Regions from separate parts of the Homo sapiens genome. Here region 2 is linked to region 1. The links come from fine-mapping of genetic effects on gene expression. A gene starts in region 1. The other region holds a variant in brackets. All regions are shown on one strand. Distances are between the middles of the regions.

The links.
Region 2: its variant is fine-mapped to the expression of CPNE5 in whole blood (TOPMed, PIP above 0.99).

Annotation. Positions count from the first base shown.
Region 1 is chr6:36,837,712-36,840,611 of GRCh38, reverse strand. CPNE5 (copine 5) reads left to right here and starts at 1,168. Exons shown (of 21, transcript NM_020939.2): 1 at 1,168-1,329. The coding sequence starts at 1,235. RefSeq lists a silencer at 495-704.
Region 2 is chr6:36,744,730-36,747,629 of GRCh38, reverse strand. CPNE5 (copine 5) reads left to right here. Exons shown (of 21, transcript NM_020939.2): 16 at 1,053-1,234; 17 at 2,115-2,242; 18 at 2,480-2,582. Among named protein-coding and RNA genes, the nearest start is that of RAB44, 48 kb to the right of the region's middle. RefSeq lists a silencer at 2,497-2,697. The variant T/C (reference allele first, on the strand shown) is at 1,743.

The sequences.
Region 1 (2,900 bases):
CGTGGTTTCGGCAGCCGACTTGGCGAGGCCGCGGCTGGCGGGAACCACGGATGGGGGAGGCGCCCATGCACCGACCCCACCTGGGCCACTGGGAAACCGAGGTAGTCCCTCCTGGCACTGGGGTCGCCCCCACACACCTCCCCAGAAGGAGATGTAGGGTCTGTTTCTGAACTGAGACCCGCCCCCGAGTAGGGCGCACACTCAGCAGAGACCCTCCACACCCAAGCCCCTGGGAGGGGATCTTTTTTGCACACCTCCCTCCCACTTATGCCCCCTCTCAACCCTGCATAGACCTTTCTCAAAAAGGCGCCCGTTGGTTCCCATAACCCTCCCCCTCCCCCAGGATGGAGACCCCTGATGGGAGATAGGGGTGGTGAGAGGGGGCGGGCGCAAATGAAGATGCGCGCGACCAGGACCACCTCTTGCTGTCACCCGCCACGTCCCCAGCATCTGGACCGCGTCCCCCGGCCCGCCACGCGCGCACACACACACACACGCGCACACACACACGCTCACACTCACCCTGCGCGCAGACCCCGCCCGCGGCCCCGCCCCGGCCCCTGCGGGCGCCCCCTCTGGCGTTCCCGGGCGGCGGGAGGCTGCGGCTTCGGGCAGATTTGATTTTCCCGCAGCCCGGGCGCCCCGGAGCCGAAGCCCGAGCCGAGGAGGTGGCGCTCGCAGCCGCGTCTCAGCCCCGTCGCCGCCGGCGCCAAGACCCAGGGAGAGGCGGCGCAGCCCGGGCGCTCGGGCTCCGCGCTGCCGGCGCCCCGCCACCCCCGCCGCCAGCGCCCCATCCGGCGCCTCCCGCTCCTCACGCCCCTCTCCCTGTCTTCTGCATCCCCTCTACCTCTGCCCACAGACGCGCGTCCCTCTCCTGGTGCCCCTCTCCACGACTCCGCGTTTCCCTCCCGGTGCCCTCTCCCCGAGCCCCTCTCCCCGCGCCCCTCTCTGCCTTCCCCGCTGTGCCCCCGCTCCCTGGGCTCCTTGCCCTTCCCCACTGGGCCCCTAGCCTCCTCGCGGCGTCACCCGAGCCCCCTCCTCGATCCGCGGCCCCCGCTCCCTCCGCCCTCTTCCCTCTCTCACTTCCCACGCCCCCTCTTCGCGCTCCTCTCTCCTCCCCTTGCCGCCCAGCCCAGGCTCTGGAGTTGGGGGAGAGCCCAGGGCTCCAGTCGCTCCGGAGGAGGCGTGAATCGCGCAGGGATTGACTAATTTGGGGTGGGGGGTGCGGTGGGCGATGGAGCAGCCTGAGGACATGGCGTCGCTGAGCGAGTTCGACTCCTTGGCGGGCAGCATCCCGGCCACCAAGGTGGAGATCACCGTGTCCTGCAGGTGAGCCTCCCGCTGGCCGGGTCCCCTTGCCCCGGCCCTGGACGCAGAGCCCCGCGGCCCCTGCCGCTTCGATCCTAAACCTCCGCGCGCCCCCTTCCCAGAGTGTCCTGGTCTCCAGGACTGCGCCCCTGCCGATCTGCCAAGAGCCCCTGTCCTGTCCAGCTGCGGGTGGCGACGGCAGAATAGGAAGCCAGGCTGGGGTCATATCCCAGAAAGTTTGCGCTCCAGGCTGTTGCATCGAGGAGATATGAAGACACAGGAACAGGGGGTCCAGGCACCCAAGTGGGGAGAGGGAGTTGGTAAAAGGCTGTACTACGGTCTCTGCTCAGGCTATCTCTGATCACCCCATCCCCAAATCACGAAGTGAGTGATTTGCCCCCATCCCTCCCAGGCTCGTCCACCCTCTCCCTTCTGTGCCCTCCTCTCTTCTCTCTTTGCCCCTTCTTTGCCCCAGCATCCTGATCCTCCCCTCACCAGTCTCCCCCACCCCACTGTCCTAGACTCTAGGATTTTAAAGCCTTCCTTCATCTCTATCAACAACGAAATCGACTCCTGGAAAAGGATCAGATTGACTCATTCATACTAAGGTGTGGATACATGATAACAACTTAAAGTGGCACCATTAAAAAAATAACTTGGGTCAAAAATCTTAAGCCAAAGGAATAGAACACTGATTGTGAAACTGTAGAGTCCAACAGAGGAGGAGGGGGAATATTTTTGTGGGCTACCACGCCCAAATCTTCACTCATGTCACACAGGGTTTGGGGGTAACTTCTCTGTCTAAGAGCTGGGTCGACCCCAGGTTCTCCTAGCTAGGGGAAGGCTGCCCCTGGCAGTAAGAGGGTATGGGTGGCAAAGGGGGATTTTTCCCTAGTTCAGTCTCTCTGTGGCTGGCCTAGGATCATGTGCTGCCACGCAAGCATCACCCACTTTGAGGTTCCCCCACAGAGGCCATGCCCCCTGCCCCAGATCACCGACAGCATTTCTGGAGCCCTGGCTGTGCCCTTGTTCGAAATCACCCATCTCATCCTCTTCCAGGTTGCTCCTTGGTCAGACCCTCCATGAGAGGTAACCTTGTTGCCCCCCAGTCCTGTATTACAAAGTTGTGGCATTGATGAGGTGTAGGTAGAGCTGGAGAGTCTGGGCAGGGGCGTGAAGGAGGGAAGGACTCAGTGTGACTTTCTCTTGAAGACTTGGGGATAAGTGGCAGTGAAGGCTAGTCTGGTTGAACGTAGCTTCCCCCCTAAGCCAGGCCCTCTGGGGGCTCCTGTGATAGCTCCCAGGTCCCATACACCATGCCGTCAGGATCATCTCCCAACGCCATTTGCATCTTGTCATTACTCTGCTGGGAGATTCCTGATGGCCCATTAGCTCCAGTCTCACCTCCTCAGCCATCAAAAGCAGCACGGCCTCCCCACCCTTCTCCTGCACGCACATCCCTGCGCCTGGCACTCCCTCCCAGCCTTCAATCATGCCTGTCATCTTCAGTTGTCTTGGGATCCTTCCCACCTCCAAGCCTCTGAACAGCCCATTCCCCATCCAGATTTCACTCTTCCTTTATCTCCCCAAGT
Region 2 (2,900 bases), 93 kb after region 1:
ACCAATCAAAAATGCCCAGGTCTTGCCCTCTACAGGTGTCAGGAGCTCCTCTTATAGCTGTAAGTCCTAGCATCATAGAGCACTGGGCTATCAGAGCTGGAAGGGGCCTTAGTAATAATAACACTGAGGATAGTTATCATAATATCGATAGCATCTGTGTAATATTCACATCAATCCTATGAAGTAGGAACTATTATTGCTCTGATTTTACAGGTGAAGAGACTAAGGCTAAGGTTAAGGAACTTACCCAAGATCACATAACTAGCAGGAGGTAGACAGGATTGGTACCTTGGCAATCTGTGCTGTACTACCTCCCATCAATGAACAAATAAGTTAAATACAGACTATATTGGCAGCGAAGAGGGCTCTGGGGGGGGAAATCAAGCCAGGAAGAAGGATAGGAAGGATTGGGGGAGGCTGTAATTTTTAATAGGCTGCTTGGAAAAGATCACACTGAGGAGGTGACACTTGAGCAGAGACCTGAAGAGGCCAGGGAGCGGGCCAGGGAGTGGACATCTGGGGAAGAGTGTCCCAGGTAGAGGGAACAGCCATCACCAAGGTCCTGAGGTGGGAATGGCGAGGGGCTGGTGAGGCTGGGACTGGCGAGTGACAGGGAGGAGGGTAGGAGATGACCTGGAGGCCAGATCATGAGTGCTTGCGGGCTCTTGTGAGGACTTTGGGTTTCATTTTGGGGGAGGTGGAGGCATTGAGCGTTTTGGGCAGAGGAGAGGCATGATCTCTCTGAGGCGGATAGGCTCAGTCACTGCTGTGCTGGATATGGGCTGGAGGCACAGGGGCAGAAGGAAGTGGGAGATCAGTTAGGAGACTGCTGCATCCTATAAGCAAGAGGGTGGTGGTATGGGGAGGAGGAGAGGCGGAGGAGGGATTCTAGATCTGTTTTGCTGAAGGATTTAACATGGGGTATGAGAGAAAGAGAGGAGTCAAGAATTAATAAAAGTTAGGGGTGCCCTTGGACACCCCCTTCTTCATTCTGAACCCGGGGTGACTTGGAGGGTCCAGATGGTCAAAGGCTCCCATGTCCTGTGTTACAGGGAACCCCTCACAGTCCACATCCCTGCACTACATGAGCCCCTACCAGCTGAACGCCTACGCGCTGGCGCTGACTGCCGTCGGAGAGATCATCCAGCACTACGACAGTGACAAGATGTTCCCTGCCCTGGGCTTCGGGGCCAAGCTGCCCCCGGATGGCAGAGTGTCCCACGAGTTCCCACTGGTAGGTGGTCCCGCTGGTGGGAGAGAGGACTGATCAGGCTGGGGGTGAGGTGACAAGCTGGGGGTGGGGGGACGTTTCCCTTCCTCTGAGCCCGGGGACTTAAGGCTCAGCCTCAGTGGAGGTAGACTGCCTGCTGTGTGTAGGGGGGCTCCAGAAATCCACTCCCTTCCCTGATCACAGATGCTGCCCCTCCATGTCTGAAGCTGCCTGCCCACAGCTGGCCCTGGCTTCCTTGTTCCTGACAAGACGCAGGTGCAGGTGGAGGCGAGCTGTGGCTGACCCATCCCTCAGGGCCCCAGAAAAGTGAACAAGGTGGTGTGGGTTGGGTATCCCTGAGTCAGTGCTGAGATGGGATGACGTGGATCTCCAGGGTGATGTGGAGCATGGCGTCATCTGGGCATCCCGGGCCCTGTGGAGATGATTGCACAGGCCACCCCTTTCCCTGGCTCCCACGAGCTGGGGACACTCAGGCACAGCAGACGTCCCTCCCATGCCTGAGGGTGCAAGG[T/C]GCTGTGCTGGGCCCAGTGTGCACGTGGACAGATCAGCCACAGGTCCTTCCTGAGTTGCTGAGACCCAGCAGTCATTTTAGGGCAGAGTGGATTTACCCAAGGTTCCCTGAGGGAAGCAGCCAGGGATCTTGGGGCATCTCTGAACAGGTACAGGGAGCCGGGTAAGGAGCAGGTTTGGACCCAGCTCACCTGAAGCATGCACTGCTTCAGGATGGGCCCTGGGAGCTCCCTCCCCTGCCCCGCCACCCCACACCAGAGAAGACCTGGGGGAGCCCAGGCCTGCTGGCCTCCCCACCTGGACTCAGTTCCCACACATCGTGCACCCCTGTCCTTCCTTCCTGGGCTCAGCCTCCCTGCCCTCTGTCCCCCAGAATGGCAACCAGGAGAACCCCTCATGCTGTGGCATCGACGGCATCCTGGAGGCCTACCACCGCAGCCTGCGCACTGTGCAGCTGTACGGCCCCACCAACTTTGCCCCCGTGGTCACCCACGTGGCCAGGTGAGTGCCGCTGCCACCGCCTCCAGGCACTCACAAGGCCTCTGTTTCCACACCAGCTCTGCCTCTGGGTGGTGGGAGGGGGTTTCTCTTCCCACGCACTTGCCTTTCAGGGAGCCCTGACCCTGAAGAGATTCCCCCAAGAGCTGTCACCCTCCAAAGTGTTCAGGGTCCTTGTTTAGGGGGGAACATGCCCAGAGGTCCCGCAGACAGACCTGAGCCCACACCTGCCCCACCCAGGAATGCAGCGGCCGTGCAGGATGGCTCCCAGTACTCGGTGCTGCTCATCATTACTGATGGGGTCATCTCGGACATGGCGCAGACCAAGGAGGCCATTGTCAACGTAAGCAAGGAGTGTGCGGTGGGGGAGGCGGTTTGAGGAGTGTCTTCCTCCCCGTTAGGGGAACCCTGGGGATGTGCCTACCTCCTTGACCTTAGGGAAATGCTTGGAGATGACTTGGGCGTGGCTTCTCATTTCCCTGCCTCACTGGGCCCCACTGCCCTCATCCACCTTCTGGCCTCTGGCTGCAGAGTCCGGTGCTGGATAGTGGATTCTAGCGGGTGGAAGGGGTGCCCAGATCATGAGAGATCTGGCTGGTGAGCTCTGTTCCCACCTCTTAGTCACGCTCTGGTCTACTCCCTCCAGACCCCAATGACTCCC